7 linked regions of the Homo sapiens genome follow. The gene in region 1 interacts genetically with each later gene. Each region holds a gene or a part of one and is shown in the gene's direction. Other genes may lie near its edges.

Region 1 (3,500 bases):
AAGTAACCATTCTACTGTAGCCAAACATCACAGAAAAAATTGTGGCTCTGCTTCCACAATCCCCAGGCAGTAATGAAGTAGCACCCTACCACCACCATTTCCCTTGTTGGAGTGGAGTGAGAGGAAGCCAACTAAACAGTGGTTTAAATAAGACCCAGAGTCTCATAACATAGTATCTAAAATACCCATGTTTCAATAGAAAATCATTCATCATACCTAGAACCAGGAAGATCTTAAATTGAATGAAAAAAAGATAATAGGTGCCAACAGTGAAATGACAGTGGTGTTTGAATTATCTTACAAAGATTTTAATGCAGCAATCATTAAAATGCCTCAACAAACAAGGAACATGCTTGAAACAGAAGAGTCTTAGCAAACAAACAATCTGAGCAAAAGAAATGCAAGATAAAAAAAAGAACCAAATAGGAATTTTAAAATAAAAAAAAATACAATAATTGAAATTTTAAAACTCTTTCAAAGCTCTTTGTACACTAGAAAAAAAAACTTAGTGAATGGACTCAACAGCAGAATGGAGATAAAGGAAAGAAATAGTGAACTGGATGATAGAACAATAGTAACTACTTAGTCTAAACTGCAGAGAGAAAATTGAGGAAACAAATGAACACTACCTCAGGGACTTATAGGACTGTAACAAAAGCTGACGTTATATGATGCATCATAAGTCCTAGAAGGAGAGGAAAAAGGAATGGCTCTGAAAAATACTCAAAGAAATAATGGCTGAAAACTTCTTAAATGTGGCAAAAAGTATATAAACCTACAGATTGAAGACAGCCCCAAAGAGGTTAAACCCAGACAAATCCACATGATGACGAACCTCTGTATGGTCAAATTTCTGAACGTGAAAGACAGAAAAAAAAATCTTGAAAGCAGCAAAAAATAGCACCCTACGTATAGGGGAAAAACAGTTCTAATGATAGCAGATTTCTCATCAGAAACCATGGAGGACAGAGAAAATAGCACAGTGATTTTTGTTTGTTTGTTTGTTTTTATTATACTTTAAGTTCTAGGTTACATGTGCACAACGAGCAGGTTTGTTACCTAGGTATATATGTGCCATGTTGGTTTGCTGCACCCACCAAGTAATCATTTACATTGGGTATTTCTCCTAATGCTATCCCTCCCCCAGCCCTTCAACCCCCAACAGGCCCCGGTGTGTGATGTTCCCTGCCCTGTGTCCAAGTGTTCTCATTGTTCAGTTCCCACCTATGAGTGAGAACATGCGGTGTTTGGTTTTCTGTCCTTGTGATAGTTTGCTGAGAATTATGGTTTCCAGCTTCATCCATGTCTCTGCAAAGGACATGAACTCAACTTTTTTATGGCTGCATAGTATTCCATGGTGTATATGTGCCACATTTTCTTAATCCAGTCTACCATTGATGGACATTTGGGTTGGTTCCAAGTCTTTGCTATTGTGAATACTGCCACAATAAACATACGTAGCACAGTGTTTTGCAAGAGCAGAAAGAAAAGAACTATCAGCCCAGAATTCTTTACCCAGCAAAGAAAAAAAAGAATTAGCAATGAAGGTGCAATCAAGACATTCTTAGAGAAGGAAAAACCAAGAATTTATTAGTAGCAGATTTGCATAAAAGAATGGCTAAAGGAAGTTTTCTAATAGAAGTGAAATGATTGAAGAAAGAATCTTAGAACACCATAAAGGAAGAAAAAAACATAAGAAACAAAAATATGGATAAATATGATAGACTTTTTTCTTCAAGTCTTGCAAATTATGTTTGATGTTTGAAGTATAAACAAGTAACCACTGTCTGATGTGATTATCAGTGTATTCCACAATATTATAAGCCATGGGGAATAAAGGGATTTGATTAGCCCACAGGAAGGCAGGAGAAGGAAAATAGAAAACAAAGTAAAATGTCAGATGTAAGCCCTCATATATCAATAACTAAATGTTGGTGGTCAAAATACACAAATCAAAAGGGATTAGCAGAGAGAATTTTAAAAACAATGACTTAGCTATATGGTATTTATAAGAAACTCACTCCAAATACAACAGTACAGTTAGGTTGAAAATAAAATGATAGGAAAAGTTATACAAATATTAATCAAAGGAAAACAGGAGTAGCTATATTAATATCACATAAACTTAAGGGCAGAAAAAAATTATCAGAGTGGGACATTATATAATGATAAAAGAATCAGCCCTCCAGAAAGATGTGACAGTGCTAAACATGCGTGTACCAGATATGTGAAGCAAAAACTGATAGACTGCGAGGAGAAATAGAGAAATTCACAATTACGGTTGGAGACTTCAGCATCCCTTAGGTGCTCACAGAATATATACCAAGATAGACCGTGTCCTGGGCCATAAAATAAACCTCAATAGATTTTAAAGTATTGAAATCATACGGAATGTATTCTCCAAACAAAATGGAATTAAACTAGAAATCAGTTTAACAGAAAATAGGAAAATCTACAAATACTTGGAAACTAAACAGTACGCTTCTGTGTGTCAGTGAGCAAGTCTTGAATTACAAAAAACACATTGAACTGAATGAAAATACAACATACCAATTTGTGGAAAATAGCTAAAACAGTGTTACGAGAGGGAAATGTATATCATTAAATGCACACAATAGAAAAGAAGAAGTCTCTTCCTTATACGTTATACAAAAATTAACTCAAGATGGATTAGAGATTTAAACATAAGACCTAAAACCATAAAAACCCTGGAAGAAAACCTAGACAATACCATTCAGGACATAGGCATGGGCAAAGACTTCATGACTAAAACACCAAAAGCAATGGTAACAAAAGCCAAAATTGACAAATGGGATCTAATTAAACTGAAGAACTTCTGCACACCAAAAGAAACTATCATCAGAGTGAACAGGCAACCTACAGAATGGGAGAAAAATTTTGCAATCTATCCATCTGACAAAAGGGCTAATATCCAGAATCTACAAAGAACTTAAACAAATTTACAAGAAAAAAACAACCCCATCAAAAAGTGGGCGAAGGATATGAACAGACACTTTTCAAAAGAAGACATTTATGCGGCCAACAAACATATGAAAACTCATTATTACTGGTCATTAGAGAAATGCAAATCAAAACCACAATGAGATACCATCTCATGCCAGTTAGAATGGCAATCATTAAAAAGTGAGGAAACGGCCGGGCGCGGTGGCTCATGCCTGTAATCCCAGCACTTTGGGAGGCTGAGGTGGGCGGATCACAAGGTCAGGAGATGAGACCATCCTGGCTAACAGGGTGAAACCCCATCTGTATTAAAAATATAAAAAATTAGCCAGGCGTGGTGGCAGGCGCCTGTAGTCCCAGCTACTTGGGAGGCTGAGGCAGGAGAATGGCATGAACCCAGGAGGCGGAGCTTGCAGTGAGCCAAGATCACACCATTGCACTCCAGCCTCGGCGACAGAGTGAGACTCTGTCTCAAAAAAAATAAAAGTGAGGAAACAACAGATGGTGGAGAGGATGTAGAGAAATAGGAACACTTTTAC
Region 2 (3,500 bases), on another chromosome or scaffold:
CTGGGAAGCGCTCTCCTAGCACGTCCATTTCCAGGAGGAGAAGCAAGCAGATGAGAGGTTTTCCATTTTGTCATCCAAGGTAGCTGTGCACTTGCCTTGTTGCTGAAGTTCCAATAATGTGAAAACCAAAGTAGAGGTTTTTTTCTTCTTCTTTTTGTTTTCTATTAATTTCACTTATACCAAAGTGTTTGAAAGTATGAAATGTGTTGCTTCTGAGTTATATAAGGCTACTTCATGACAAGACTGCTTTGTAATATTTCACTTTGTTTTACTACAAATTCAGATCACTTTGTTTTACTATAAATTCAGATTATCCAAATATTTTCCTAATACTATGTGGGAATGCTGATTTTCTTTTGTTACGTAGTGGAAACATTTTGCATTGTTTACATAGTTCTCATGGAACATGGAAATTTTTGAAAGTGATATATGATACACATTTTTTGTGTATGTATTCTAATTAGTGTGAATAAAGCAGTAACATTAATGCATTTTTTAAGCAGCAAACTTATGTATTTCTCTTGTCTTCCTTAAAAGTGTCCCCATGAACTCAGTGTTTATTCCCTTTTCATTTTGAGTACCTGCTTATATGGTCAGTATGTAACGTTAGCATTGGCTCCTAATGGTAGAATTAGAACAGCAAGATTGTAGAGCTGTAATTGACTCCAGACAACATAGATTTCAGCCACCTCATTCTACAGCTGAGGCCAGGACAATAAATGCCTTTCCCAGACTGGGTAGTGGCAGATCTGGGATGGAATATGGTTTTCTTGATTCCCTTTCAGCCTTCATTTCTCTCTCTCAGGACTACTACTTTTTAATTACTTTTCACTTAATTTCCCAATACTGATGAAATAAAGAAAAATGAGGGTTATTTATATACATTTCAATAAAATCCAATTTGATTTTTCAACTTACATCTGATTTTTGTTTGTGTCATTCAGCCTGTCTTCTGAGTAATGGGCAGAGAAGGACCAGGGTTCGTAGAAGAAGCATGTGGCAGCTGAGTGGCAGCAGTCTTGCCCTTTCATTTTAATACTTGAGTACACAGAAAATAGAATTTTTGAGTGACTCTGCCTGTGGATATATATACTCATACATACATATATATATATACACACACACATATGTATGTATGTATGTATTACTATTCAGTCTCTTAAAAACCAAAAAACAGTAGATCCCCTGAGGGTAGAGTCTTTATGTATGAACATATTGTTCACTGTTGTAACCACCTTGCAGGATTTCAGTCTATAAACTAGGTGAGAATCCAGCTGCTGAGTGAAGCTTGATCTCTGCCTCTTCCTCAGGAGCAGCTCATCCCCTGACAACCTCCCCTCCCAGCCCCTAATCTGGTTTAATGCCCTCCTTTTCCCCAGATAAAGAAAGTCATGTCTGTAGTTATTCCAAAAGTGTTTCATGTGTAGAGTTTGGCACAAAAAGTAAAAAGCGCCAGCATCTGAAGTCAAAGGTGAAAGAGTCATCACAGTACTGATGAAGACACCCAGGCCTCGTCAGCTATGTTAACGTGCTGTATGACAAGAGGAACCTGCTTTCTAAGTCTGCTGGACACGCGTGCTTCTTGAATCCAACCAGACAAGCATGTTTTCTCAAAACCACAGTATAAGACAAGGAAACTGCACAGATTCGAGTGATTTTTGAGGTAAGTATGTTATTGGAAAGGTGTGATCTATATAGAACCCTGTACATGAAAAGGAGGAGATGCCGCTATCTTGGCAGGGATGATCATGTATTTGAAATAGTAACTCACAGCATTTGGTCTCATGATAAGAGTACTGAAGATTATCCCAGAAAACCTAGGATGATTGGTATTTATAGTACCATTGTTTCAGGTTTTTATGACTTGAGGCATCTAACTATCTTAATGCTGTACTTTAGTGTTTACCAAGCAGCTTTCTGGTGGAAACTTGAACTGCAGACACTGAGTGTTTTGGTTTTCCTCCAAGTTATAGTTCTCATTGTAACTTAATAAGTTGGCATTCCAGCTTAGTTTGAGTCAGTTTCCCAGGGCTGGGTCCTCAGAGGAGAGTGGATAGAATTCAGTTCCTCTATGAGCTGGGGTGCTGACATTGTGTTCCTGCTGTTGACTGTCCCTGCGGTGCACGGGACAGACTGTCAGCTAACCTGTCTTCATGACATTTCTATAATACTCCTCAGGGGGTTAACCCCATCTCTACTAAAAATAAAAAAAATTAGCTGGGCATGGTGGCATGTGCCTGTAGTCCCAGCTACAGGAGGCTGAGGCAGGAGAATTGCTTGAACCCAGGAGGTGGAGGTTGCAGTGAGTTGGGATCTCGCCACTGCACTCTAGCCTGAGTGACAGAGCGAGACTCTGTCTCAAAAAAAAATAAATGAATAAAAAATAAAACAGCAACTCTTGCAGATTTCCCGAATGTATTGGTCCCAGAGAACACTGAAAATAATGTCATGTTGTTAACACCAGTGGGAGTTTGGGAAATAATTCCAGCTCTTTAATACTTCTTTCAGCTTCAGATTAAGTGAAATGAGTTTCACATATTTCAATATATGAAATTTTATGATGACACATAAAACAGGCCAGGGGTTATTGAGGACACATCTGTGAGATAGTGGGCAATGCTACATATTCGTTAGTGGATGTGCTGCAGTTCAGGTTCATGGACAGGTGGGACTGGTGTGGTTGGGATAACCCACCATGTTTGTCTTTCATTTCTTGTATAAAGAGTGGTTTTTAAAAGACCTTACTATGGAATTTTCACAAATACTCAAAAGTATGGAGAATGGTACAGTGAATCCCCATGTGCCCTTTTCCCAGCTTCAGGGGTGGTGTCAGTGATAATGATTTGGCTCTGTGTCCCCACCCAAATCTCATCTTGAATTGTAATCCCCACGTGTCAGGGGAGGGACCTGGTGGGAGGTGATTGGATCATGGGGGCTGTTTCCCCATGCTGTTCTTGTGATAGTGAGGGAGTTCTCACAAGATCTGATGGTTTTAAAAGTGGCAGTTTTCCCTGCACTCTCTCCTGCCACCTTGTGAAGAAGGTGCCTGCTTCCCCTTTGCCTTTCGTCACAATTGTAAGTTCCCCGAGGTTCGTCATGATTGTAAGTTTCCTGAGGTCTCCCCAACCATGCAGAACTGTGAGTCACTTGAACCCCTTTTGTTTATAAATTGCCCAGTCTCAGGTAGTACCTTGATAGCAGTGTGAAAATGGACTAATACAGTCAGGGACCTAAAAGACAGGTAAAGAGATGTGGCCAGGTGAAGACGGAAAAAGGACAGTGCATTCCAGACCTGTGGAAAGACGCGAGGTTGGAAAGAACATCACAACTGGGGCGACTGAAGAAATTATGTTGTTAAGCACGAAATGCAGAGAGAGAGCTATGTGAATGTGTTGAGTGTGATTTTCATTAAACAATTTTTAAAGAAAGCATTTCTAGTGGTGCTTTTATTTTTGCAGCCGCTTAATAGCATTCACTCTTGTTGAAAGGAGCACAGTTTG
Region 3 (3,500 bases), on another chromosome or scaffold:
CACAGCAATTGAAAATGATTCTGTTTAGAAGGCAGACATTCTCCCACACCCTTGAGGCCCAGGGCTCACTGCTGGTGTACAGCATGAAGTGGACAGGAGAGTTGATTCAGTCCATGAACATTTCAGGAAGTTAGAAGTCTATAGTTGTGGATTGCAAAATACATATCTGGCCTGCCTCCCATTTCCTGGCTAAAATACTTGGAATCTCCGAAGTGATGATGTCTTTTTGTACCCTAATGAGTTGACCAGTGATGGGCAGCCCCTACGAAACTTCAGGGTAGGGCTAGTCACAGGGCCAAGGCAGGATTAGAGGGTTTCAGCCCCACCCTCCAATTTTCCCAGAGTGGAGAGGGACTGAAGATTGAGCTGGTCACCAATAGCCAATAATTTAATCAATCACACCTATACCATGAAGTCACACTTTTGCCTTCAGTAGTTAACAGCATCTACAGCCCCGTGTTTCCACATTTGTACAAAGGAATGTTCAGACTGAACCACACTTAAGTACAATTTTGAAACAGCATGAGGCTGGGCGTAGTGCCTCACGCCTGTAATCCCAGCACTTTGGGAGGCTGAGGCGGGTGGATCATGAGGTCAGGAGATTGAGACCATCCTGGCGAACATGGTGATACCCCGACTCTACTAAAAATACAAAAAAATAGGCCAGGTGTGGTGGTGTGCACCTGTAGTCCCAGCTACCCGGGAGGCTGGGGCAGGAGAATGGCGTGAACCCGGGAGGTGGAGCTTGCAGGGAGCAGAGATCGCGCCACTGCACTCCAGCCTGGGCAACAGAGCGAGACTTTGTCTCAAAAAAAAAAAAAAGAAAAAAAAGAAACAGCATGAAATTCCTTGTTGATGGGAAATACCCGAAAGGCCTGCCTGGGTTTTCAGAGAGCTTCCAGAAAGCTGAATTCATGGAGGTTCCTGGAGAATGGCACAGCCAGGAGGGAAAGGTAGCGCCGTGTCTCTTCCCTCATACACCGCCCACTGCATCTCTCCATCTGTATCCTTTGTAACATCCTTTATGAAAAACCAGTAACCTTTAGTGTTTTTCTGAGTTCTGTGAGCCACTCTAGCAAATTAATTGAACCCAAGGGGAAGGAGTTATGGGAACCCTGATTTATAGATGGCTGTCCAGAAGCACAGGTAAAATAACCTGGAGTTTGTGATTGCCTCCAGGTAGACAGTGTCAGAATTGAACTGAATTAAACGACACCTAGCTGGTGTCTGCTGCAGAACGCAGAACTGGTTGCTTGCTTGGCATGTAGGGAGAAACCCCTGCTCATGTGGTGTGAGAAGCGACCTGTGTTATAAGAGTGTGTGAGAAACTGAGTTTGGGTTTTCCTATGTCCTCAAAATAGTATATTTTGAAAGCCTTCTAGGCAGAATGTATTAAAATAGTTTTTACTCCCTGAAGGGATGCCAGCAAGCTAGAAAGATTCATTTCCAAAGGGCTTCCAGTGGTAGCATGGCTAGACATGAGACATCTTTCCATTTGTGTCATACAGCAAGTTATTTTTGCAGTACCATATACGCTATGCGGGAAACTTTTAAGTATTTTATAGGTTTGATTTAGGTACAAATGGCCAAGAAGCTATCATCTATACTCATCCTGGGGATTGGGAACGGAGGCAGTTAGATGTGCCTGTGCTTTGTACCTTCTGTAGATGGGAATGCAGTTGCTCACTCACCAATCAAATTTATTGATTTATATTTAAAATACTATGAATACATCTTCTGGCAATTTTGGTGGTGACATTTTCCTTAAAATATTTGTACTAGCCAGGCACTGTGGCTCACACCTGTGTAGTGCAATCTACTTGGGAGGCTGAGGCAGGAGAGTGGATCACTTGAACCTAGGAGGTCAAGGTTGCAGTGAGCTGTGATCATAACCACTGCACTCCAGCTTGAGTAACAGAGCAGGACCCTTAGCTCTTAAAAAAATTTATACCTACTCATCAGCTGAGGACCTGGGGGCAGGTTTAGAAAACAGATTTTGAACACACATCCTTCCCTCCCTCTTGTGTCTGACATCACTGAGCTGCCACACTTTTGCCTTCAGTAGTTAACAGCATCTACAACCCCATTTTCCCACATTTTTATGGTCAAAAGAATGTTCAGACTGACCCACACATGAGTACAGTTTTTAAAAAGCATGCAATTCCTTGTTGATGCGATAGGTTTTTCGTGACGAACTTAATTTTTAGGGAAAGCACATCTGCAGATGTGTACAGTTGATCTTCATGAGCCCTATGGGCCTGATAAACATTCTTTTGCCATTGTTTTCTCCTCTCCTTGGTGGTGAGTCACTTGTGCAGTGCCCAGCGGAAGAGGGTGGGAGGCTGGGGAGGAAGGCCTGTTCTGGGCAAAGGAAGCCCTGCTTGATGAGCATGAGGCTCCACGGGGGCAGTGGCTGTGACGGTGAGTGCCACACAGAGCTGCCCACACTGGTGGAGGGAAGGCAGGGAGATACCAGGACCATCCGGAAGGGGCTGAGTGTCATTTGACAGGTGCCATGTGAGCAGAGATGTGAAGGAGTGGCCCGGGACAATCAGGGCAGAATCCCTGAGGTGAGTGCGCTGGCTGGCAGAGTTTGGAGACCTGTCAGGAGTAGGGTGCATACTGGGTGGGAAGCCTGCTGGGGTGTGCAGTGGCCCTCGGAGGGGGTCCGCGGTTCCCAGAAAAAGGAATTTGGTAATCTGTGGTGGCATTTTTGGGTGGCAGCACTGGCACCTTTGGCAGTGGCAAGAACACTTCCTGTCTGACCTTCATGTAGGGGAGGTCGTCTGATGTCCCAGACCTGTTATAAATATGAAAAAAAAATTTTTGTGCATAGTTTTAACAGGTGTTCTGAAGTTCCAGGAACAAAATCACCTTATAAATCAAAGATGACTGTGTATTGTTCTCTTCAGAATCACAGCAAGAATTCAGTTTCCAGAAGGAAAAGCTACAGTAGTTGCTTCATGGACATGGCTTGCCCTTGAGGTTGGTGGTGTCAGTGCATGAGCAGCCTGGTAAGGGTGGTTCTCTGGCCGCCACCCTTGGTCCTCTAGCGTGGTTGTGAAGTCACTTTCCTTTACTCCCCATTGCATCATAGTTGGGACAGAGCAGTGGTTCTCTGCCGTCTTGTGCGAGTGCTGGGATGCTGTCTCTACTTCCTTTTGGGTTGCCAGAGGCAGCATTTAGAGCACAGTGTGGGCATTATGTTGTGGACCAAGGCAGCCTATTGCAAGGACCTGATCGGGCGGCAGCCGTGGGGCAGCTCTGAGTAGAACATCGGGTCACCTGGCTGACTGGTGTGCTGAGAACACGCAGGAGGAGGCTGGAGACGGGGTTCTTGCCTGGGGAACAGGAGGGAGGCTACTCGCATCACAGCGGAGAATGCCTGTTGGGTTTGGGAGGGGGGTTTCGGCTGCAAAGCTGGCTGTCAAGGGGCAGGAATTGGGAGGAGGGTCTAAAGTCTTGAAGAGAAATGTGGGGTCGTTGTGTAGGGGCCACCA
Region 4 (3,500 bases), on another chromosome or scaffold:
GAAACCAAAAGACCCCAACATCCTTGACCAAGCTGTCTTTACAGGATGGACATAAAGCCAAAAAGCCAGCATGTAAATTTGAAGAGGGTCAGGATGTCCTAGCTAGATGGTCAGATGGCTTGTTTTATCTTGGCACTATCAAAAAGGCAAGTTACTTTAATGTATCTTTTGCTGTTTTTGCAGTAAGCATTTAATAATCTTAAATTTAACTTCATGTTTTTAATTTTAAGAGATCACCGTTAAGTATTTCTCTGTATTGCAGATAAACATATTGAAACAGAGCTGCTTCATCATATTTGAAGACAGTTCTAAATCCTGGGTTCTCTGGAAGGACATTCAAACAGGCAGGTGCTACTATTTCTCTTGAACATGATTTAAATTAAAATTTGATTTTCTTCAACTTGTCATATTATGATGTTGTCTGTTGAATACAGTGTATTTAGATAACTCAGTATTACTTCCTAGGAGAGGTTAAAAAATCAGCATAGTCGTTATTATAGACCATAAGAAGAACAAGAATACTCTAGAGGACAGATGCATCACTAATTTATACCTGTAAGCTATGTTAAGACCCTTCTAAGAACTTTGAAGAAAAATCTTTAGTAACTAATCTCAGTAACGGTTTGGGATTCAATTCAACTGTTGCTTGCTTATATTTGTAGAAAGCAAGTGTTTATTGGGAGCATACTGTTTGTCAGATGATTTGGGAAATTAGGACATATAAAACTGATTTAGAATAATAGAAATATTCGTTAATAAGAATGGTTTAAAATTACCATTTAGTTATGGGTTTTTTATGTTTAAATGGGAAAATGAGGCTATATTTGTGTGCCAATAAAAATGAATGAAAGTATGCCTTGGTTTGGTTATAGGTATGCTTCTTGTGATGATTTCTATTATTAGAAACCATGATTGTTTCATGCTTTTAGCATCTGCTAAATATAGATGTTTTACCAGGTACCTCTTTCATGCAAAGTACTTTTAAAAATTACAATCTCTACTAAAAGCCTGAGTATTTTAGCTGTTCATTAAAGCCCTACTTTTGGTTTTCCTTTTGCTGGGTTAATAGGCCTACACTAAGACCCGTGTTTTGTGTATTCTCATAGAAAAGAGATAAATTTTCTCCCTAAAGGGTAGACACCTTGCCAAAGTATTTAACAATTGGGTTTTATATTTGAATACCAAGTTCAATTTTATGGTAGGTTTCTGCCATGTTTTAGTTCTTGACTTTACTCTTAATGTTTCTTAAAGAATAAAAAAAGTTTTGGTAAAGGAATTGGAATGTTCTAATTACCATCTGTATAGTTGGTACTCAGGGCTTAGGTGGGGAACTAAGTAGCTTTTACTCTGGTAAAATGTTTTTCTGGAGAAACTTTTTATGGTTCCTGGACTGATAAGTTTAAAGGACTAAAATTACATTTTGAATCTGAAATTGAGGAGCCAGAGAAAAGTGTGACTCATAAGATTTAAAGGGATAGGAGATCTCCAACACTACTAATATTGAGCAGATCTTACTACCCTGCACACAAAATTATTCTTTTTTCCTTATTTTGTAAACATAGGTCTCTCTGTAATAGCAGTGAAACATGTTATGCTGCTTTTTACTCCCCTTCCATTAGCTATGTGTTTCTTTCAGCTTTTGAAGATCTTTTGGAGTTTCCTGTGGATTTAATGTAATAGGTCTGTCTGTCCTTTTGTCTACTTCCTCCTTTCTACTTCTCCTCTGCTTTTAAAAGTGGTAGAAAAGAAGAAAACCAATGTTACATAGAGATAGAAAGTTGTTGTGTGAGGGGTTCTATAAGTCCTGCACTCAGTATGTCAGTTTAATGTTCTGTGGTTGTTCTTTCTTCACTGGTTCCTTTTGCTGTTCTTGGAATTACAAAGGATTGCTCCTGGTCATTTAACTCTTCTTAGCACCCTGATATTAGCACATATGAAACTTATAGTTGCTATAAAAATGAATAAATGAATCTGAAACCTGCGTTATGGCATATTTCAGTGAGGAGTGGGTTTAGTAGTTTTCTTCCCTGTAAGAAATCTGCCAATAATGTATATCAAAACTTAATAAATTATATTTGTCTAATGAGTTTCTTTTAAAAATTTTACATAAAGAAAAATATTAGTAGTCAACAGGGTGAAATATATCATGTTACAACTATTACATAAATGTAAGAGGGTTTTGAATCTTAGCATCTAATGCTGTTTTGGTTTCTGTGAAATGATATACTCTTGCATTGCTGGTGGCAGTGTAAATTTCTATTTTGGTGGTTTAGCATTTGCATTAAATGCAGAAGTTTATAATTATCTAATAGACTCCTTTCTAGCAGTTTATTCATAAGAAGTAATTCAAAAAATACTAGGTGAAAAATGTTTCCTGAAGTTTATTTTAACAACAACAAAAAATTTGGTATTTCTAAGATGAAATGGCCAAGGCTTTCTAGTCAATTGGATTTAGAGTAAAGGAGACTATAGAAGATTACTAAGCTATATAGGAAGGTTCTTGTAAACTTGATGGTAAAAAATATATACATATATGTTTGATTTCACAAGTAAAAGTTAATTCCCAGCTTTCTCAGGATTGTTTCTTGGGTCACTACCCCCTTTTCTGAGGAATTGCCTTCCCCATCATTAGTCCAGGTAGTTACAGTGAGAGTCAGGTCAGGCACCTCCCCTCGCGGGGCTGTTGTTCCATTTCCAGGGAATTGTAAATTTTCACAGAGAGTTCCCAGGCTTAATCTGGTTGCTCTCATGATCGGAACCATAAACCCAGAAGCTATGGGAGACCACCTTCAACGAAGTGTACCAAGAAGCAAACAGCTGGGCGCAGTGCCTTATGTCTGCAATCCCAGTGCTTTGGGAGGCCCAGGCAGGAGGATTGCTTGAGCCCAGGAATTTGAGACCAGCTTGGGCAACACAGGGAGATCCTGTCGCTACAAAAAAAAAAAAAAAAATAGGCATGGTGACACACACGCCTGTGGTTCCAGTTACTTGGGAGGCTGAGGTGGGAGCATTGCTTGGGCTTGGGAAGTCAAGGCTGCAGTGAGCTGTGGCTGTGCCACTGCACTCCAGCCTGGATGACACAGCAAGACCCTATCTGAGGGGAAAAATAAAAGGAAGCAAACAAAGCAGAAGAGAGAGGATGAGAGACCAGAACAAACAAATAAATAGCAGAAATACAAAAGACAGATTTCTCCCCCTCCAAAAAAAGAAAAACAGTTGGTAACCTGTATGTCCGAGAGTAGAGTAATAATGAAGTAAATTGGGTTATTTCCACTAGATGTAATACTATGCAGCTATTAGAAGTTACAATTTTGAAATGAAAAATGATTTTCATTTTCAATTTTGAGTGAAAAATGCTTTTGATAGAAGAAATATTACATAGTATTGATGAAGCATCTCGTAGTGGAGAGAACATGGATTTTGGCACATCTGGATTTGAATCCTAGTCTTGATGTTTTCTCAGGGTCTTTGGGTTAGTTACTTTGTCTGAGCCTCAGTTC
Region 5 (3,500 bases), on another chromosome or scaffold:
TAGGACATATAAAAGATTATAAATACAGAGCTTTATTATCCTGACGTCTTGGGTCTTTTAAGTATATACTTTTCTGAAAGGTATCCATTTTGTAGGCTTGGGTTCTTCATGAGCATACGATTGTTTATTTTTGCTGCTGTTCTCAACATCATCATTGCCTGCTGATGTGCCACGATGCTGCTCCAATAGACAGCAATAAGATTGTCTCTAATTTGAGCAGTAACATGATTGCAAGAGACCAAGTTTCACAGCTTGTAAAGTTCTGTATTTGGGATTCTTGCTTATTTTTCCGCCTGTGTTTTTCTGAGAACTTATTCCTGATGATCAATTGAATCCAGTAGTTTTTCTATGCTATTTGTTGTTGTATAAGCTACTGTAAGAAACTTATCATAAGGAAAAATAGAAAGGAAAACTTGAATCAATACTCATTGATTAAAATGGAATAAAGAAAGAGCAGCTGCCACTTTTAAACAACATAAAGGAATATCTTTTTTTGTCTCCGTGTAGGAAATCCCATAAGTTCTTATATTTGTTCCAGTTCCCATTTCCTGCCATTGACCAGATAACATCATTGACTTTCAAATGACTTTTAGAAGTGATAACTCTTAATTTCCTAATAGATACTAGATTGTATTGAATTCTGTTTTAATTATTCTCTAGGTAAGTATGTTTTAGGATTAAATACCTTTTACAGATACTGAAAGTGCCTCCTTTTGTGGTGTAAAAAACAAATTATGGTGCAAAAAGTAATCACTAGATTGAAATACATGAAGGTTTTTTGCTTTTTGACATACGAAAATGTCAAGAGAAAGGCCAAAGATTTGTACTTTTTCACTTACAAAGCACTCCTTTTTCCCTTAAACTTCTTTCTGTCAAATTAGATTTAATGAGAGAGTACTATTTTTAAGGAGCTATCTGTTTATGTAGAATGATTTTGTTAAGAGTAATGTAAACTATTATTGAGTAGAGGCCTAAAGAGGACTGTGCATTTTTGCTATTTAAAGGAATCACAAATGATCATACTTAAGTGAGCAAAAATGACAAGTTTTACTAGCTAAGTAGAGAAATAAATCTCAAATGCAGCGCTACAATTTTCATTATCTTAAGTACATTGTACATTTCTACAGAACCTGTGATTATTCTCGCATGATAAGGATGGTACTTGCATATGGTGAATTACTACTGTTGACAGTTTCCGCAGAAATCCTATTTCAGTGGACCAACATTGTGGCATGGCAGCAAATGCCAACATTTTGTGGAATAGCAGCAAATCTACAAGAGACCCTGGTTGGTTTTTCGTTTTGTTTTCTTTGTTTTTTCCCCCTTCTCCTGAATCAGCAGGGATGGAAGGAGGGTAGGGAAGTTATGAATTACTCCTTCCAGTAGTAGCTCTGAAGTGTCACATTTAATATCAGTTTTTTTTAAACATGATTCTAGTTAAATGTAGAAGAGAGAAGAAAGAGGAAGTGTTCACTTTTTTAATACACTGATTTAGAAATTTGATGTCTTATATCAGTAGTTCTGAGGTATTGATAGCTTGCTTTATTTCTGCCTTTACGTTGACAGTGTTGAAGCAGGGTGAATAACTAGGGCATATATTTTTTTTTTTTTTGTAAGCTGTTTCATGATGTTTTCTTTGGAATTTCCGGATAAGTTCAGGAAAACATTCTGCATGTTGTATCTAGTCTGATGTACTTATCCATCTCATTACAAACAAAAACACACAGACTGCATTTGTAGCTCTGTAATCCTTGAATACGGAAGTAAATTTTCTTCTTTCCTGACTTTGACATTGTAGCTATACTGTTTCCATTTTTGTTTTTACAAATCCTTTGGGTCTAATTCTGTGAGCCTACCTATAGCACTGGATTAAAATGTCTGCATCATTTCTTTAGTTATCCAGTTAACTTTAAAACTGTTGTAAAAGTGTAAACCAGCCCATGACAGGTTTTTGTACATGTTAAAGAACTTCATTGTTCAGTTTTCATGATTATTGTGTAAGGAAGACTGATGTAGATGTTCTGTGCTGTCCTGGACCATGTTAATTACACTTACGACGTATTTTAGTTCCACATCACAATGATTTGTCCCCAGTGACCCTTTTATCCTTTCTAGGCACATTTCTTGTTGTTGTTGTTGTTGCAGTTCCCCTTTGCATTGTATTGCTTTGACAACTGTAATTTGAATCAGATCTGAAAGAGGTCCAGAATAAAATATATTTTGATATTATGTTGGCTGTGTACATATATAAAACCTTTGATGTCTATGTAGTTTATATAGACTATTTACTAGTCAGGTAAAGAGAGAGGGATGGTATTTCTTGTTTACAGTTTGTTTACATTTTAATTGCTTTTACTTCTCCAGTGTTCTATTGTAGAATAAACCTTTTTTTCCAAGTTAGCCTTCATAACCTATAACACATTCATTCTCTCCCATACTGGTGTTACTGATTAATAACTGCCATCAGAACCCAAACCACTGTTTTTCATAAACGTATTGTTTCCCAAGATATATACTTTAAGCCCATAATAAAATTACAAATTTTACTATTTTTATTACTTCTTGCAGGAGATAAGATTTTTTTAAATGAAGGGGTTATTTACTATTTTTATTAAAGTATAATAGAGCATCTAATCAGCTAAGGGATTGTAATTTTTAATTCTTTTGAAAAATAAATATTGTATTTAAAAGACGTTATTTCACAGAAGCTGAAAAAGAGACCTTAGATAACATTTGTTTGGTTAGCCACACGGTTGAGCACAAAACAATGTGTAGATGTGTTGAAGATTAGGGCAGGAGGCTCAACTTCTCGGTGACCTTTTTTTGCTTCACAACAAGCCAATTATAGTTGAATCATTTTCTCTCTTAGCTAGTTGTTACTACAAACTTTATAAGAAAAACAACTAGACACCTTCTAGTTTTAATTAATACCAACTCCTTTAGAGTTAGAGACTTTTTAAAAAGAATCATTGAGCATATTTTCTTTTTTTTTTTTTTAAGAATTTACACTCTCTAGGTCTTCTATTTTTCCTGTTTATTTCCTTAAACAGAAATAAATTCAAGCATAGTTTTATGTTTTATTAGAAATAAGCCACTGCAGTTGCTAGAACTGACATGCTTTCATTTTCAAGGGGTTAACTTTTATTGCATGGCATAGATTATTAGTAATATCCTGCATTGTATACTTTTCCAAAAAGGGTTGGACTCCTAAGGATTAGAATCCTTATAAGCTTGAGGGAAAGCTGAAACTAATTTGAACAGTAATAGAAGGGATTATTTTTAATTTCATAGTTAACACTTTACAATGGATTAGATTTATTACCTAGTATAATCCGTAGCAGATCAGATCAAAGTTTACTGTTTTACCAATATATTCATTTGAAAAAATACAGTGGAGGAAAAGACACTTTAGATGGTAGTTTTATGGTGCTTTTCTCTGCTGTACCAAAGTGCTTTGTCATCAATGAAATGTTAACCCTATGCTACTTTTTCTGCATGCT
Region 6 (3,500 bases), on another chromosome or scaffold:
CTGGAAAAAATATTTGTTTAATTAATGTATCAATATAGTAATTTCTTTTAACCATTCTTATTTTTTTTTTCTTTTAAGTCTCCTTAATCTTTGCTCCTTGAAAAACCAAGATCACTTGCTAAAACTTACTGTTTCTAGCTTGGACTATAGCAGAGATGGATTGGCTAGAGTCATCCTTTCCAAAATTTTAACTGCAGCTACTGATGTGAGTATAACATAGCCAGTAAAACTATATTTATAACCAATTAATTCACTACTTTATGAATTTTGGGCTAAGTAAAATTAAGTTCTAAGAATATGATATGGAAATTGAGTTTACTTTAAAATTTTAGTTTCTCCAAGGAACTGCATATAGTACTCAGATTTTTGTATCGGGGGAAGAAGCTGCTAGATAGAAAGGGAAGTATTCTATTTCACAAGAACCAAAAAAGTATTCATATCAAGGGCTAGACCACCAATTCCAGGCATTCTTCCCTTTTCAAGTAGCAGGACTATCCCAAAATAAAATCAAATAGGCTATTTATGCTGAAGTTTTTTTTTTTTTTAATGTATTCATTTATCCTTATAGGCCTGCAGACTCTATGCAACAAAACATTTAAGGGTATTATTGAGAGCTAATGTTGAATTCTTTAATAATTGGGGAATTGAGTTGTTAGTGACCCAGCTACATGATAAAAACAAAACGATTTCCTCTGAAGCTCTTGATATCCTCGATGAAGCATGTGAAGACAAGGTAAAGGTTCATTTTTTATAATTTAATACTTAAATTTTTTTGAAATACTCATTTGACAATTATGTAAAAGTATATAATAGGCATTTTGGAACTAAAAATTTTGCTATTTTTGTGCAATTATAAAAAAATAATGATAATCTCTTTTAGGCCAATCTTCATGCTCTCATTCAGATGAAACCAGCGTTATCCCACCTTGGAGACAAGGGTTTGCTTCTCCTGCTGAGGTAAATTTTAAGTAAATTTTCTGTTATGTTTTTTTGTTGTGTTCTTTGGCAGTGTATATTAAAGATAGATTCAAATCCAAATGGGAAGTACGCTGAAGAGTTTACCTTTTAATATTGAAACATTGTCTTTTCATTATTTTGGGTTTTTCTTTTTTTTTAATTTTTTTGGTCTGTTCATACTTTTCATGACATTTTCCTTTTTTTTATTGAGACGGCCTCGCTTTGTCATCCAGGCCAGAGTGCAATGGTCCAATGTTGGCTCGATGCAACCACTGCCTCCCAAGTTCAAGTGATTCTCCTGCCTCAGCCTCCCAAGTAGCTGGGACTAAAGGCGCACACCACCACGCCCAGCTAATTTTTTGTATTTTTAGTAGAGTTGGAGTTTCACCATGTTGGCCAGGCTGGTCTTGAACTCTTGACCAGGTGATCCACTCACCTTGGCCTCCCACAGTGCTGGAATTACAGGCGTGAGCCCCCGTGCCTGGCTGACATTTTCTTTATTGTGATTGGGTTCGCGTGTTGTTGCAAAGATTGTGAAAATTTATTTGTAATTGAAGTTATAATAAATTATAGTTGACCTTTTAGTTTTAGGAACGAACTATTCCTAAAGTCTTTTAGCTCCTTATACTTTTTTAAATTTTAGTTATTTTAGCTTCTTAAGATACGTTTTTGCCAGACTCAATGTTAAACTATTGCTTGTTTTAATTTGCAGATTTCTCTCCATTCCAAAAGGATTTTCCTATCTGAATGAAAGAGGTTATGTAGCAAAACAATTGGAAAAGTGGCACAGGGTAACTTCTTATTTGAATAAAGTTGAATTTGTGTGTTTTTATCTTCTGAAATTGATTTGTGAATTTAGAGGATGGTTTTTTTATATCAGTGTTTTGAAATTAATAAGGTTAAATATTTAAACATCAATATCAAGTTGAATCCTAAATTCTGCATAATTGCTAGTATTTATAGTTATACATTTTTTTAAACTACAGTTATTTCTTTCATTCTGAACTGTTGACTGTATTCGTTCTATTGAAATTTGACTCTCAACTCATTTGATTTTATAATCTAATTTTTGGCCCTGTTTATCATTTCTTTCATTCTTCGGTCCCTTAATATGGCCTACAACTTTGCATGAGCCCTTTAAGCTAAAACCAAAATAATTTTTTTAAATGAAGGGAGATTGAAATCCCAAGGAGATATAATCATTTAGTTAAACTTTACTTTAGGATACTACTTTACCTAAATCTGAGAATGAACTTCTTGCTGTCATAGGGAAACCTGCTAAGAAGGGAGTAGTTTGAAGATATGAAACAACTTTTCTAGCTTTTCTTTAGCTGGTGATTGCTGTGGCTTCATTATTTTGTTTGAAGTATTATAAGTCATCGAAGCATCTTGGAAACCCATGGTCAAAATGATCTTTACCGATATAAATGATTTTTAGATTTTTCATCATTTCAGATCAGTTATCCTGTTTTCTCTTTTTTGTTAACATAGTTACACATTCTTTTATAGTGTCTATATTGAACCATATTTCATAAGAGATACTCCTTAAATGGACTAAAACTTCCAAGCATACAACTTAAGGCATGAAGTCTTTTAGTATTTGATGAATTGTAGAACTGAGACAAGATGTGATAGGTTTGTTTCCTAGAAGATATTTAAATCATCATAATAAAATTTATTATACAAATCATAGTATTAGAAAATTGCTTAGAATATTGGTGCAGTGCTTGAAAATAGCATAAAATATAAGAGCTATAACAAAGTTACATGCAAGGTATAAGGGAACACAGAGGAGAGATTAATGATTCTGCCTTAGGGATTATCAAAAGAAATGTTGAATAGGAGCCGTAGATGTGATACTTGAAATGGTCTTGAGGAGTAAGTAGGCAAATAAATTAGAAGAAGGGTATCCACGGAAGAAGGAGCAGAATAAAGCTGTATAGATCATTGGAACATTATAGACTTATGAAGAAAGTCATATTCCAATGTAGTTGGAACTAAGGTAAGTGTGGAGTGGCAAGATGAGGCTGGAATGGTAAATTAAAGCTAGATTGTAAAAGGCCTCGTAAGCCATATTATATCATCCTAAGGGATTTCAATTGTATATATAGTGGGGAATCCTTAACAGCTTTTAAAGAGTGATCAGAGTTGTGCTTTAGTAATCTGACAGGTTGCAGTGAAGAGGAGGAATTTTGATCATTGAAGGTAAAGTCTAGAAATATTGACACAAGTTTAGAAACAAGAATTGATGAGTGCCTGAACTTCACTGGTAGTTAGGTTGATTAGATGAGGACGCATTTTCTGGGTATTTTCAAAATAAGATGGACAGAATTTGTGGGCTGATTGGATACAGTAAATAAGAGGTCCAACTTGGCTCATAAGGTTTCTAATTTAATGACAATATATAATGGATCACTATTAAGAGATCACATTTATAAAAAGTGATTCAAGATTAGGCTAATGAATTTTCAATATGTTGAACTGGCATTGTCTGTGCAGTAACCACGTGATGGCTTGAAAATGTGGATCTGGAGCTCAGATTT
Region 7 (3,500 bases), on another chromosome or scaffold:
GCCCCAGCTCCCCAGAGAGCCTGCACTCCTCTTTTTCTGAAAGACTTGGGCTAGATGAGGGCTGACTGGGAGAGAAGGCAGGGCTACCCCACCTGCCTCTTCTGCAGCCCTGACCTTGCTGTGGGGGTGGGGCCTGTCCACAGGTACCAGCCATCTTTCCATGGAGTGGACCTGTCGGCCCTCCGAGGTGCCGCGGTGGATGAGTATTTCCGGCAGCCTGTGGTGGTGAGTAGGGCCTCCAGGGTACTGCTGCAGTGATCACTTGCCATTGCTGTGCAGCTGTGCAGCCCTCAGGAAGCTACAGCCCCTCTCTGAGCCCTCTCCTCTGCCCTGCACAGCGCTCTCACAGAGATTTGGGCCAAAAGTGTCAATGCATGTAGACACTTAGCACACAGCACACATGCAATACATGTGGAACATTATTAGGTGAGGCTAAGGCAGAGGGGGCATTTAGGCTCAGGAGTTCAAGATCAGCCTGGGCAACACAGAGACGCCATCGCTATTTTTAAAATTAAAATAAATAAATAATAAAAATAAAAAAGAACCATTACTAGATGAATTTATCCTTGGTGAGCTGATGTGATTTATTGATTGATTTTACTTGAGATTTTTGATACATAGATCCATGATTTAAAAATCAAAAGGAAAAAAAAGCTAGGTGCAGTGGGTCACACCTGTAATCCCAGCACTTTGGGAGGCCAAGGCGGGCAGATCACGAGGTTAGGAGATTGAGACCAACACGGTGAAACCCCATCTCTACTAAAAATACAAAAAATTAGCCAGACGTGGTGGCGGGCGCCTGTAGTCCCAGCTACTCAGGAGGCTGAGGCAGGAGAATGGCGTGAACCCGGGAGGCAGAGCTTGCAGTGAGCCGAGATCGCACCACTGCACTCCAGCCTGGGCGACAGAGTGAGACTCCGTCTCAAAAAAAAAGAAAAAAAGGTTCCATTTTATTCTGTTTTCCCCCTGCTCTTGATGTTTTTCATTCGTTTTGGGAGACTCTTGGACTATCTTGGATACTATCTCTTTAAACACTACGTCTGCCCCATTCTTTCTCCTTCTGGGATTCCAATTACGTGTACAGTGAACCTTTTCACCATATCTCAGATGATTGTTATACTCTTTTCTGTCTTTTCCATCCATTTTTTTCTCTCATTTTCTTTTTCTTTTTTTTTTTTTTTTTGAGACGGAGTCTTGCTCTGTTGCCCAGGCTGGAGTGCTGTGGCATGATGTCAGCTCACTGCAACCTCCACTTTCCGGGCTCAAGCGATTCTCAGACTCCTGAGTAGCTGGGAGTACAGGCGCTTGCCACCACTCCCAGCTAGTTTTTTGTAATTTTAGTAGAGATGGGGTTTCGCCATGTTGGCCAGGCTGGTCTGAAACTCCTGACCTTAGGTGATCCGCCTGCCTCGGCCTCCCAAAGTGCTGGGATTACAGGCGTGAGCCACCATGCCCAGCGTGTTCAGTCTTTTGTGATATCACTGGGGAGTGAATGAGTGAAAAAAGCAGGAAATATTTTGGTGGTATTATGCAAATTTTGTATTATGATGAGGGTGCCTTGGAAGAGGCCACAGTTTGAGAAGGTGCTGCTTTATGGTACAGCCTTTGGTAATGTTAATGCAAGTCCAGTGGTTAGCCTCATTACCAATATGCTGCTGAACCACCCGTTAGCTTTTATTGTTTTTTGAAACAGGATCTCACTCTGTTCCCCAGGCTGGAGTACAGTGGCTCAATCACTTCATGGCTTACTTCAGCCTCGATCTCCCAGACGCAAGTGATCCTCCTGCCTCAGCTTCCCAAGTAGCTGGAACTATAGGAGTGTGCCACCATGCCCGGCTAATTTATTTTTTTGTAGATATGGGGCCTCACTGTGTTACTCAGGCTGGTCTTGAACTCCTGACCTCAGGTGATCCGTCCGCCTCGGCCTCCCAAAGTGCTGGGATTATAGGCATAAGCCACTGCACCTGGCGTTGAGCCTCTTATTAGCGGCTTTCTGCTTGGTGTCTTAGCCTCTGATGCCCTGCCTCGCTCAAAGCTCAGGAGTTGGCCAATTTCACAAGCGCACTGAGTGTGCACCGCCCACCTTGCCCTCCTGCACTTATTTCCCTTTGCTTTGACATCACAGCCCCTTGAATCCGAGCTGCCTTGGTAACCCTGAGCTCCCATTTTGCTTTCCCCACCCAAGGAAGCTGCTGAAAGGTCGAGGTGGCCGTTTTCTGCCCTCCCCATGGGGAAAAGGTAGAGGCCAGAAAGGGCTCCCTCCAGAAAGGGCATTTCCCTCCTTTCCAGGAGCTTGATCCCCAAAATCCTGGCCGCTCTGGTTGGTCACCAGTGCTTCCAACAACTGGTTTATTCTTTTCTTTGGATTTTATTCGGTTTACATAGTTCATGGCAGGTGTGTTAGTCGGATATAAACATTGCTGGGAGTGGACAGCAGCACTAGTGTTGTTGTTGTTTTTAAGAGACAGGGTCTCCCTGTGTTTCCCAGGCTTGATTCACACTCTCGGGCTTAAGCGATCCTCCTGCCTCAGCCTCCTGAGTAGCTGGAGTTACAGGCATACAATTCCACACCCAGCTAGCACCTAGTTCTTTAACTTGCTTTTTTGGTTAACTTGCTTAATGATTTAGCTTGGAGATCTTTCCTCATCTGTTCATAAAGAGCCTCTTCATTCTTTCTCACGTCCGCATGGTCTTTGATGGGAGAGCCATCACTGGTTTAATTAGATGGTTTCCAGTGTGTCGCTACCACGGACAATCTAATTATACATGTAAGTTTGTTGATGTGTTCATGTATCTGGAGGTTAAACTCCTGTAGTGCCAAATCTTTTATGTGGATAAACACTTGTCATTTGGAGAGCTGTCACCTGATTGCCCTCGGTGGCGTTGTGCCGGTCCCCTCCTCACGGCGTGTCTGGGAAGAGCAAGCTCGTTTTAGCTGCACAGCCTAGAAGCCGTGGGCAGACCTGGGGGAAGGGGCAGGGCTCTCCCCTCCCATGCTGGCCCTGGCGTCAGATGCCACGTCACACCTGTGGTCTCTCCCAGGACACATTTGACATCCGGATCCTGATGGCCAAGTCTGTCAAGTACACGGTGAACTTCTTAGAAGCCAAAGAAGGAGATTTGCACAGGTACTGGCACCCACACTCCATCCTCCCAGGCCTGGCTCAGGCCGAAGGTCAGGGCCACCCCTGGCTCCCGCCGGCATCCTGCCGTCCCAGGGCAGATGGTGGGCGGGGGCCCCAGGCCTCTGCACCTGGCACCCCCTCTTCTCTCTCGGCAGCGCCTGTCTGGCTTCCCCAGCAGCCACTGCCCTTTGCCTTCCAGGATAGAAATCCCATTCAAATTCCACATGCTGCATTCAGGGCTGGTCCACGGCCTGGCTTTCTGGTTTGACGTTGCTTTCATCGGCTCCATGTGAGTGCCGCAGAGCAGCCCATGCTGCCTCCTCCCCACTCCCAGGGCTTCCTGCAGCTGCAACCTGGCTGGGGGGGTGGAACATG

Evidence for each region.
Region 2: changes in RAB2A (region 1) and SEC23IP together harm fitness more than expected from each alone (negative genetic interaction), as found in Homo sapiens cells (one large-scale study listed by BioGRID).
Region 3: changes in RAB2A (region 1) and ARF1 together harm fitness more than expected from each alone (negative genetic interaction), as found in Homo sapiens cells (one large-scale study listed by BioGRID).
Region 4: changes in RAB2A (region 1) and MTF2 together harm fitness more than expected from each alone (negative genetic interaction), as found in Homo sapiens cells (one large-scale study listed by BioGRID).
Region 5: changes in RAB2A (region 1) and TBL1XR1 together harm fitness more than expected from each alone (negative genetic interaction), as found in Homo sapiens cells (one large-scale study listed by BioGRID).
Region 6: changes in RAB2A (region 1) and RICTOR together harm fitness more than expected from each alone (negative genetic interaction), as found in Homo sapiens cells (one large-scale study listed by BioGRID).
Region 7: changes in RAB2A (region 1) and CARM1 together harm fitness less than expected from each alone (positive genetic interaction), as found in Homo sapiens cells (one large-scale study listed by BioGRID).

What each region holds. Positions count from the first base shown.
Region 1 is NC_000008.11:60,593,487-60,596,986, forward strand, and holds part of RAB2A (ras-related protein Rab-2A), read left to right. Parts: intron 1-3,500.
Region 2 is NC_000010.11:119,941,230-119,944,729, forward strand, and holds the end of SEC23IP (SEC23-interacting protein), read left to right. Parts: 3' UTR 1-3,428; downstream 3,429-3,500. UniProt on the Homo sapiens protein: Plays a role in the organization of endoplasmic reticulum exit sites. Specifically binds to phosphatidylinositol 3-phosphate (PI(3)P), phosphatidylinositol 4-phosphate (PI(4)P) and phosphatidylinositol 5-phosphate (PI(5)P).
Region 3 is NC_000001.11:228,085,708-228,089,207, forward strand, and holds part of ARF1 (ADP-ribosylation factor 1), read left to right. Parts: intron 1-3,500. UniProt on the Homo sapiens protein: Small GTPase involved in protein trafficking between different compartments. Modulates vesicle budding and uncoating within the Golgi complex. In its GTP-bound form, triggers the recruitment of coatomer proteins to the Golgi membrane.
Region 4 is NC_000001.11:93,110,283-93,113,782, forward strand, and holds part of MTF2 (metal-response element-binding transcription factor 2), read left to right. Parts: coding exon 1-146; intron 147-262; coding exon 263-344; intron 345-3,500. UniProt on the Homo sapiens protein: Polycomb group (PcG) protein that specifically binds histone H3 trimethylated at 'Lys-36' (H3K36me3) and recruits the PRC2 complex, thus enhancing PRC2 H3K27me3 methylation activity.
Region 5 is NC_000003.12:177,019,483-177,022,982, reverse strand, and holds part of TBL1XR1 (F-box-like/WD repeat-containing protein TBL1XR1), read left to right. Parts: 3' UTR 1-3,500. UniProt on the Homo sapiens protein: F-box-like protein involved in the recruitment of the ubiquitin/19S proteasome complex to nuclear receptor-regulated transcription units. Plays an essential role in transcription activation mediated by nuclear receptors.
Region 6 is NC_000005.10:38,955,900-38,959,399, reverse strand, and holds part of RICTOR (rapamycin-insensitive companion of mTOR), read left to right. Parts: intron 1-78; coding exon 79-205; intron 206-568; coding exon 569-733; intron 734-880; coding exon 881-957; intron 958-1,669; coding exon 1,670-1,748; intron 1,749-3,500. UniProt on the Homo sapiens protein: Component of the mechanistic target of rapamycin complex 2 (mTORC2), which transduces signals from growth factors to pathways involved in proliferation, cytoskeletal organization, lipogenesis and anabolic output.
Region 7 is NC_000019.10:10,916,553-10,920,052, forward strand, and holds part of CARM1 (histone-arginine methyltransferase CARM1), read left to right. Parts: intron 1-143; coding exon 144-225; intron 226-3,042; coding exon 3,043-3,128; intron 3,129-3,324; coding exon 3,325-3,414; intron 3,415-3,500. UniProt on the Homo sapiens protein: Methylates (mono- and asymmetric dimethylation) the guanidino nitrogens of arginyl residues in several proteins involved in DNA packaging, transcription regulation, pre-mRNA splicing, and mRNA stability.